2 separate regions of the Homo sapiens genome follow, and region 1 is linked to region 2. A link means that fine-mapping ties the variant in region 2 to the expression of a gene that starts in the linked region. Tissue or cell type: fibroblasts. Region 2 holds a variant in brackets; the other region holds the start of a gene. All regions are shown on one strand. Distances are from middle to middle.

Region 1 (5,000 bases), 89 kb before region 2:
TCCCCAACGTAGAGATGAGCAAACAGAGGCTTGCTCCAGGAAGCCAGACCACAGCGAGCCTGGGAGCAGCGGGGCAACCTGCCAAGATCCGCTCTCGGCCCGAGCCAGGCCACCGAGGCACGGGCCAGCAACCCGGCGGCTTCCTCCAACCCTCTGTCGCTGCAGGCTGCGAGCAGAAACCACATCCCGGACCCACGCTGATCCCGACTCAGCCTCGCCGAAGCAGGCGACAAAGGACCGCTCTCAGCTCCCCGGGCCTCCCAAAGCCGCGGCCGGGTCAGAGCCCCACCGGCCCGGAGGCCCGGGCAGCCCTGCCCCTCTCTCGCACACACCCGGCGGCGAAGCGTGCGTGACTCAGCGGTTCTCCCGCCGGGAGCGGGCGCGGCCCCCGCAGCCTCCCTCCGCCCAGGTCCCACGCCCAGCCTCTGCCTCCCGGGCCAGGGCGCCCCGAGCCCGCCCGCGCCCGCGCTCGCGCTGCGCTCCCCGGGCCTCCGCGGGGCTCCGGCTCCGCTCGGCCTCATTTCCGGCAGAGCCAGGCTTCGAGGAGGCGGACCCAGCCGCAGGAGCCCGGTCTCCGCCGCCTGGCCCACTCGGTCTCCCTGACACAGGCACCCACGCGCACCTGCCCCGCGGGACCCGTGCCCAGGGCCCCTCCCACTGGGGCACCCACCCGGGGAATCCGCGCACACTTCTGCGGCCGGGCCGCCAGCCCGTGGGTTAGCGGCTGACAGTCCCCGCACTCGGGCAGGGCTCCAGCACAGGCGGCCCCGAGCCCAGACCTCCCGGTCCCCATCCTCCATCGGGGTCACTCCGCGGGCCCTGCCTGCGCACGGAAGCTGTCCCCACTGTTCCCCTAGCGAGGCAGACCAGGGGGCCCCCGGAAGTTCCAGGCCTGTAAGAGAGGGGCGCTGACCCACCAGCCTCGGGGGTAGGGTGGGGGTGGGGGTTGGGCTTGTAGGGCCAACTTAGGGGATTTTAAACAGGGCCTGTTTGGGATGGCATGTCCCACTTTTTTGGAAAATCCCGACAGTTAGCCCAGCTGCTCCTGTCTCAATATAACTCACCAGGAATAAAAAGGCCAGCCCCAAACCAGCCGCCTTCTCCCTCCCACTCAGGGACCCTGCCTCTGGAGGACAGGGAGGGGCCCGGGCAGGCGGGCCTCCCAGGAGGATCTGGCAATGGATTATGTTTTTTTCCCCCCGGGTCCCTCTTCTTCTCCAGGGAGAGGGCAGCCTAGAAAATTCTGCGGGCTTTGGGCAGGGCTGAAATGGCAAATCCAGGATTTAAACCATTAAATTTCCCCGAGATTTCTTCACCAGATTAGCCACAGCCGTGGCCTTTTAAAAAATTATGGTCAGGGCCGAATCAGGATGCCACCTGGCTTGGGAGAGGAAAGCTGCCTCCCGGAGGGCGGCGCGGAGGAGGGCGCTGCCCTGTGCCGGCGCTGGGCAGCGGAGGCCGGTACCCTCGGGCTCCCTCCCTCCTGGGCCCCGGGCAGGGTGGGATGGGATGGGGTGGGGTGGGGTGGGATGGGGTGGGGTGGGGTGGGGCGGGGGGACACGACACACATCGCGCGGTCCAAACCTTCGGAGGGCATTCGGTGCGACGGCATCCCCACGCCGCGGCCGGCCGGAGGGGTCTCAGACAACACGTACGTTACCTTCAGTCACATAGCTGTGGTCCCGCAGGAAGCTGTGGTTAATTTTCCGCGTGTCCGTGTCCTCGCCCATTGAAGGCCGTGCCCGGTGCTCTGGGCATGCCCCGCCGCCACACACCGATGCAATCCGCAGAGGTCGCGCCGGGCGCGCGGGCCATGCCGCCGCAGCCTAGCAGGGGCGCGGGCCGCCGGGGCCCCGAAGGGAGGGCATCGCGGCAGGGGGACGGGCGGGGGCGGCCGGGGGCGGGCGCCGCGGTCAAGCGAGCGCGCGGTGGGCGGGCGGCGGCCGCGGGTTCGGGCGGGCCGGGGCCCAGGCGCGCATCCCGGCCGGCCCGTGCGCGCTGCGTCCGTGCGCCCGGCGGCGGGGCCTGGTGCCGGTGCGCCTGGCTGCGGCGACGGCGGCGAGGGGACGCGCGCGGCGCTGCGCTGCGCCGACCAAGCCGGGGCCGAGCCGGGCTGCGCGGGCTGGGGCCGCCGCCGCCGCCGCTGTCGCAGGCCCCTCCCTCGCGCCGCCCGCTCTCCGCCCCCGCGGCCCTGCAGGTGGAGCCGGCGCCCAAGCCGAGGCTGCACCGCCGTGCTCGGGCCCTCGCGGTGGGCACCTTGGTGCTGGGTGCGCCACGGGGGAGGGAGGAAGGAGACCGCCAGCTTGCGGGGAGAGGGTGATCAGCTGAGCTTGGGGGGAGGGTACCTTGGGTGCCCAGGTGCTCCAGTTATGGGAGAGAAGGCCAAGAGCCGGGGTGCTGGGAAGGGGGCAGGAGGAGAGCAGCCTCGCAGGCAGAAGGCAGAAAGGACTAGGAAGGAAGGAGTGGGGTCGCAGTTGAAGAGGGCGCACCTGGAGAATGGGGACTCGGGGGAGGGGAAGGACACTGTCTCCCTTCATTAGTAGAAGAGGGTGGGTCGCGCAAGTTCTGGGGCCCGTTGGGAGCATTAAGTACATGTGAAGAAGCTGGTGGAGGGGGTCCAGCAGCCGACAAGGCAAAACTGGATGAAATGGCTGGAGGGGTGATTGGGCCTCCCCCAGGCAGGGCTCTGAGATCTCTCCTCATGCCCACCTCTCCTGACGAGTGAGAAAGTTAAAGAAATACAGAGCTAGGTACCTCCAAAACCAGGCTGGAAAATGCGTCCCCCTCCTCCCTTCCCTCCCTCCCCTCCAAACCCAGGGCTCTGCCAAACAGGAACCTCCCTCTGGTAATCAGCCTGGCACATAGTGGGCCCTCAAAAAATATTTGCCTCCTGTTTTGCCAAGCTGCCACCTCCTCCACCGTGACCCACCGCCTAATGAATCACAGTCCCCTGCACGGGACACAAGCCCCAGTGGGGATTCAGAGGTGTGGGTGAGGAACCATCAGCCCTCCCTAGGAGCTCAACAGAGCCTTCCTGGAAAGCGAGGGACTCTGTGGCTTGCCTGGGAGGGGTAAGTGCAGTGGGGTGACCAGAGCTGCAGGGGCTCTTGGGTCTAAGGCATCAGTGGAGCCATGCTCCAGGTGGGGGCTGGTCTGTAATGGCCTCCACTTGTTTCAAATGGTTCTGGGGGAACTCCAGACAGCTCCCCAAACTGCAGTGGAGGTAGGAGAGTCCAAAGGCGTTGGGGGCAGGGAGACTGGGGCTGTGGGAAAGACGAGGGAAGGTGATGCCGTCTCAGATTTCTTGGAGATTGAGAGGGAGTTTTTGAAGCTACAGCTTTCGTGCCTTTGAAATCCCCAGAATGGACCTATGAGGAGATGAAAGCCCCCCAGCAGCCCCACCAGCACTCTGCAGGCTGTCATGCAAGGGCTGGCCTGGGGAGAGGCCCTGGGGCCCTGCCAGCACCTGCTTTGGCAAGTGCCCTGCCCTGTTCCAGCCTCTACCTTTTCACTGTGGAACAAGCCAAAATCTCCCAGCTGTGCAGACTCCATTCAAGGACCAGGTAAATGCAAGGGCCGGAAGGATGTGCTTGTTCTTTGTCACTTTCTACCCCGTAGGAAAGTGACCGACACCCACATTGGCCCCCACCCACCTGGCATGTTCTCCTCTCTCTCTCTCACCTGTCTGCTCACATGCCCCCCACCTCACATCCTAAGGCCAGCCCCCCACTCTCTGTCCACACCCCCTCACCTCTCTAGCTGGAGCCAGCAAAATGGCTATGCTGGGAGAAAGACAGGCTGGGTTCAAGTCCTGACCACAAGGGGGCCCAGGCACAACCTCATCTGTAAAGTGGATGTGATGGCAGGAGTGGCCCCACTGGGTTGGGGTGGCCAGTCCTGCTCAGCAGGGGTCAGGCCTCCTGGGAGCTCTCTTGTTATCATGCTGAGGCCCACCCTCCCGCATGTTCCTCAGCCTCCCTCTCTGATCATGGAGAAGTCCCCTCTCCCTATCTGTCAATCCTGCCAAAACACCCACCCTATGCTGGCATCAGCCTCATCTCCCGGGATGTCCTGGACTACAATGAAAACAGCCCCACTCTGGCCTGACACAGTACATCATCCCTTTCATCAGCTTCTGAGCCATGCTGGGGACCCTGCAGTGGGTGGTCTTTCCAACCTGACTGGGCCCCAAGGCTTGCATCCATCCCCTCCTCACCCCTCACCACCCCATCCTGCCCCACCCCCACCACAAGCAGTGTCTGGGCTCCTCCACACTGTCTCCTCCATTTCCTGGAAGCCCTCCCCCTCCAGCACAACCGAGGACTCTCCCTCAGCCCCCTGCCCACCCCCCACCTCCACTAAATCACACAATCTGCTGCTTCCTCATCTGTATCTGCACACAGCCCTGCCCCCGCTGACAGAGCCTGAGCTCCAGATCCTGCCACCCCCAGCCTCTCTGTACAGACTCCTCTCTGTACTTTCATTCATTCAATGAGGAATGTTTATTGAGCATCTACTATGTGTAGGCATGTTCCCAGCACTAGGGTAGTGTGGAAGACAGAATAGAGAAATGCTCTGCTCTCGTGGAGCTGGCCTCCCAGTGGGGTGAGATGGACAGCATAAAGTGAGCATGTACTGTGTGGGCCATGACTGGTGCAGAGGAGAAGGCGGGAATGGAGATGGAGATGAACGGGGATGGAGATGGGGATGGAGATGGAGATGAAGGCGGGGATGGAGATGGAGATAGAAAGGAACGGGGAGGAGGAGGTGCCATTTTATAAAGGTGAGTGTAGAGGAAAGCTCAATAAGGTGAAATTTGTCAGCATCTCTCCAGATGCTTCTCACAGCGTAAGCCTGCTTGGGTCTCTTCCACATTCAAAAGCTATCCTCACTCCGTGTCCCTTCAGCCACCAGCACATTGCATTTCTGCCATTCACAACCACAATGCCAAAAGGGTACAGCTACACTCGCCATCTCCTCACTCACTGCCGTGCCCTCCA
Region 2 (5,000 bases):
CTGAGACAGGGGCTCTGATGAGCAGGCAGCCCTGACAATAGCAGTTTCCTGAGAAGGAATCACAGAACAGAACCTAAATTTAAACACTGGGAGAGCAGCTCGCAGTCCAGCCAAGGCAGGAAGAACTAGGTTCAGATCCATCTCTCACTGCTAAGCAGCCTGGAGCACATCACTGGCACCTCAGTGTGCTCCTCTGTAAAACCGGGGGCAGTGGGCACGTCCACACCCTCACAAGTTGACTTGAGGATAAGTGAGATAGAGTGTATAGTGCATAGTGCCCGTGCAGTGCCAGGCTCACAGAAGTGCCCAATAAATGGCAGTTCTGAAAAAATACACAGCACACACACACACACACACACACACACACACACACAGAACAGAGGCAAAGAGATTAAACTTCACCCAGGGCTGCAAATTTGCAACACGCAGCATCTGTGATCACTGTGCCAACTACACTCCCAACACCTTAACCCAATTCTTGCCCCATGCATAACTTCCTCCAAAATCCCCCCTGCTGTGGACTGGATGCTTGTGTCCCCCTGAATTCCTATGTTGAAATCCTAACCCCCAATGTGAGATATGAGGAGCCGGGCCCTGGGGAAACAATTAGAAGGAAATTAGTGCCCTTCTAAAATAGACTCAAGGGAGCTCATTTGCCCCTTCCACCCTGAGAGGGTACTGCAAGAAGGCACCATCCGTGAACCAGAACGCAGGTCCTCACCAGACACTGAATCCGCCACGCCTTGATCTTGGACTTCCAGCCTCCAGAACGGTGAGAAATAAACCTGTGTTGTTCATAAGCTGCCCAGGCTATATGGTGTTTTGTTACGGCAGCCCCAACGGACTAAGACAGCTCCCTTCCTGAACTGTGTTCCATGTGCTAATCAGATTTCAGGCCATTTCATCCATTCACTCCTCAAACATGTGGTGTGTGACCCCAAGGGGCAACTCAAACCCTGGGGATTCCACGTCAAAATTGACATGTCCCTTAAGGTGTTGGGGGAACCACAGGGGAAGCCCACCAAGGAAGAGGCATCCTGGGGCCCTTGAAGGCTATGCAGGCGTTAGCCAGGCAAGGCAGGGGCAGGGGTGCCCCAGGGCAGGGAGCAGCCCCATGCAAGACCCATGCAAGACCCTCCTGGAGGAGGGCAAGCAGGGGACAGTGCACAGCCCCCCAGGCCCAGCCCACCCAGGCTCTTGGCTACCAGACTAAGGGCTGGAACTTCTATGTTCTTCTGGAAGCAACTCCAAGCCAGGGGCGTTTCCATACTGGCAAATGAAAAAAATAAGATTTGCTTTTTTTCTGACAGCAGCAGTGAGCTCCAGGCCCTTGTTGAGAGGTGGTGGGGTAGAGTGACCAAGGACAAGCCTTGGGGGAGGACTGAAAGGCTCTCCGCCACTAACAGCTGTGGGACCTCAGGCAGATCACTTAATCTCTCTGTGCCTCAGTAAAACGGAGCCAACAAGAGCACCCATTTCACCAGGTTGTGGCGGAAGGAAAGCAGCTCATACCTAGGAAGCACTGGAAGCGTCCCTGGATCCTACAAAGCACCTCTCAGTGTTGGCTGCTGTTACTGGAGCTCTGTGCCTATCCACAGCCATGGGGTTGGAGCTGCACCCGCTTCACAAGTGTGTGACCCAGGCAGCCACACAGGCCTCATGCTTGGAAGGGGCTCGTGCTTGGGGTTTAAGGCTCTGCAGAGTCATAAAATTCCTGACAGCTGAATCTTTGAATGTGTGTTTCCTAAGCAATGTCTGATGGAACAGCAGAGCCTGTGCTGTGAGCATGGAGCGTGTGCTCCTGCCTCCTGCCACCTCCCCAACCTGGGTTCTCAGCTGACTGCTCCCCTGGCCTCTGGCACCCTGGACCCCACCCTTCCTCCTCTTTGTGCCTTGTCTCAGTGTCACTGCTGCCCTCCTCCCCTGGCAGGGGTCTGGGTCTAGGAGTGTATGCACCCCAGTGCATCCTGGGGTGGATCATGGCGGTGACCGCCCTTCCCTGGGCTGGCAGTGCCACTGTGTGTTCGGTGGGCAGTTCAGCAGGAACATCAGGTACCAACTGTCTCAACCCCAAGGCTGCAATGCCCTGTGGGGTACCTGTCTGCCATGGATTGGGGCATCGACCTGTGGACCTGTGGGAAGGGGAAATGCCTGACTC[G/A]ACACTCAACTTCCCTGTCCCTGGCCAGAAGACAGGCGTCTTGCAAGAGTCTGCACTCACCCTGCAAGCATCCCCATGCCCAAAGGAACACGATGTTACACAGGAAATAAAACCACCATGACAGGCGGAGAGAGAGTGCAGGAGAAAGTGAGCACTTTTAACCACACTTTCCCCTACTTTTTGAACACAGGGCCCTGCATTTTCATTTTGCACTGAGCCCCACAAATTATGTAGCTGGTCCTGGGTCGGAAGGAGGTGGGGGGAGGGGGAGGGGAGGACTTGCACCTTTTACTCCAACTATTTCCATATTGTTTCATGTTTTTCCAAGATGCTGGTGATCATGCATTCATTTTGCAATTTTTTTATTCCAAAAAGAGCTTAATGGCTACACACACGGAGAGAGACACAAACACACACACAGACACACCTATACAGACATAGAGCTACACAGACACACTTGGATACACACACAGATACACAGACACACCCACAGATACATACATGGATACATACACACACTGGCGTTTAGAACCCAGGGACTGACTCCCAGCCCAAAGATCTTCCGTGACCCATTGCCAGCCGCAAGCAGGCTCTAGGGAGTCCTAAGAGAGCTGAAGAAGGTTCTACATCGAGCCTGCCTACCCCTTTTCTGAAAAGCAGAGAAAGGCCATGTGGCATTCACTCACTCACGCACTCACTAATCGACAGTCAACAATTCCACACTGAGAAGCTGCGATTTGCCAAGCACAGTCAGTGTCCTGCAGACATGACCGGATATAGTCCCTGCCCTCAAGGGGTGAGGGTATTCCCAGGGGTGAGGACACCTGGGACAGAGAAGGCATCCCAGGTGGGCGGAAACCCTCACTCCACAGCAGGGAGGTAGGAAACAGACACATTCAGGGGCCTGGAGGGAGCTGAGCATGAGCAGGCGACCAGGGCGTGGTCAGAGTGCGGGGGACAATGAGACTGAGGAGGCAGCTGCAGCAGATTGTGGGGCACTGACAGCTGACAGAGGAGCTCACCTGTGGGCAACGGGCCCCACTCCCTGCCACAGCCCGTCCCCTCCATGTTGCTGACAGTGTCCCTGTGATGTCTTCCCGTGACAGTGTGAGCACATGCCAAAGAGGACTCGCCACAGCCTCTGGAGCTCTCCCACTGGCAGCTGTGTGGCCTCGGGCAAGTTACTTAACTTCTCTGCACCTCAGTTTCCTTATCCTATAATGGGGATAATGTGGGGAGGATTCAACGGAGTCGGGGGGGGGGGTTGGATATTTGAAAGCTCTTGGAACAGTGTGTTTGTTATATAAAGTGACAGAGACCAGCACCCTACCCCGGTCCACCAGCCCTCTGTACCTTCCATCACCCACCTCACTGGGCCCCTGAAGGGAGGAGGGAAGAAAGCAAAAACAGATTCCTGGGCCCTCACCAGTACCCCCCATAGGCCTCTTCTTTTATCTCTGCCACAACCTTGCCCGCTAAGCAACGTCATCCCCATTTCACAGAAGAGAAACTGAGGCCCTGAGAGAGTAAGCCACTTGCTGAAGGCCACCCGGCCGGTCAGGGCGAAGCTAGGATTCAATCCAGGCGGGGCAGCGTCTCGGGCCACAGAGTGTGTGGTCCCTGTCCCTGGGACCCTCCGCATAAAAGCCAACCCGGGTCACTTCCCAGGGTGCGAGAGCAGCTGTCCATCCCACCAACGCTCTTCGGGCTCTGGGCGCGCCACTGTCATGGACTGTCCCTGCCAGCCAAAAAAAAAAAAAAAAGGCTTCTCCAAACCAGAGCAGCAGCCGGGCCTGACTCAGCACCCACCGGCGCGGGCAGCGGGAGGAGCGCGTAGACGCTGCTGGATGGTACCCGCGGCCGGGACTGAACTCCGCCGCATTGGGTCTTACCCCGGACTCCGAGCCGGACCCCGCGCCCGCACCTTCAGCCGGGCAGCGAGGGGGGGCTCGAGCGCGCCGGTTCTCGGCCGAGACGCTGTGGCTGACACCGGTGGAGCGATCTGCCCTGGCTCGCGCGGCGAGCAAGTGCTGGAGGCAGGGTTCCAAGCCGGTTCTGTCGGGTTCCCTCAAGACCCCGAGAGCACGCGCTCCGGAGGGACCCCGGCACTTCGGACCCTAGCAGAGCCAGCCCTGCCCCAGGACCGCCCCGGGGTCGGTGCCCGGGCTCTCTGAGTCTCGCTTCTGGCCCGCGAAGACGCGCCCTCTCCTCCAGTCGCGGGAGTCCCGCACCCGAGGGCCGCGTCCCCGGGCAGGGTGAGGTCCTGCGGGGCTGGGGGTGAGGCGGGGTGGGCGCGAGGCGGCTCCGGAGCGGCGGGGCCGGGCGCCCTGCAGCCCGCGCTTACCTTCGGAAACTTCGAGGTCGGCGGCCCCATTGAGCTGGCACAGGCACCAGGAGCCCTGGTCGGCGGCGGGCGCGGCGGGCGCGGCGGGGGCGCGGTCAGCTGGCAAAACAGCAAGGGCGCGTGAGCGCGGGCCCGGGGCGGGGGGCGGGGGGCGGGGGCGCGCGGCGAGGCTAACCCGGCTGCTGGGCCATGGGCGGCTCCGCAGGCTGCGACCGCGACGGGCGTCCTCCGGGCGGCTGCGGGGGGCCGGGCGCGGCGGCCGCTCCTCCTCCGCCTCCTCCGGGCTCGGCTCCCTGCGCGGGCGGGCGGGCGGGGAGGCGCGCCCAGAAGGCTCCGCCCGGAGCGCGGGTGCGGGGCGCGGGGTGCGGCTGCGGGCGCCGAGGGTGGGCGCGGGGCGACGATCGCGAGGCGCGGATCGCAGGGCGCGGATCGCGGGGCGCGGGGCCGGGCACCGGGTAAGAGGCGCGGGGTGCGGGCGCGGGGCGGGGTGTGGGTGCG

Which allele goes with the higher level. Positions count from the first base shown, and alleles are read on the strand shown. Sizes are in standard deviations (SD) of each study's normalised expression.
With allele G in place of A in region 2, the expression in fibroblasts of the gene that starts at base 2,115 in region 1 is lower (large effect, 0.91 SD a copy in GTEx).

Evidence for each region. PIP is the estimated chance that this variant, and not a neighbour inherited with it, causes the effect.
Region 1: it holds the start of PPP2R2C, and the variant in region 2 is fine-mapped to the expression of PPP2R2C in fibroblasts (GTEx, PIP above 0.99).

Annotation. Positions count from the first base shown.
Region 1 is chr4:6,470,500-6,475,499 of GRCh38, forward strand. It overlaps PPP2R2C (protein phosphatase 2 regulatory subunit Bgamma), which reads right to left and starts at 2,115. Exons shown (of 9, transcript NM_020416.4): 1 at 1,661-2,115. The coding sequence starts at 1,730. RefSeq lists an enhancer at 1-424.
Region 2 is chr4:6,559,058-6,564,057 of GRCh38, forward strand. It overlaps a transcript of PPP2R2C not described here. Among named protein-coding and RNA genes, the nearest start is that of MAN2B2, 14 kb to the right of the region's middle. The variant G/A (reference allele first, on the strand shown) is at 2,159.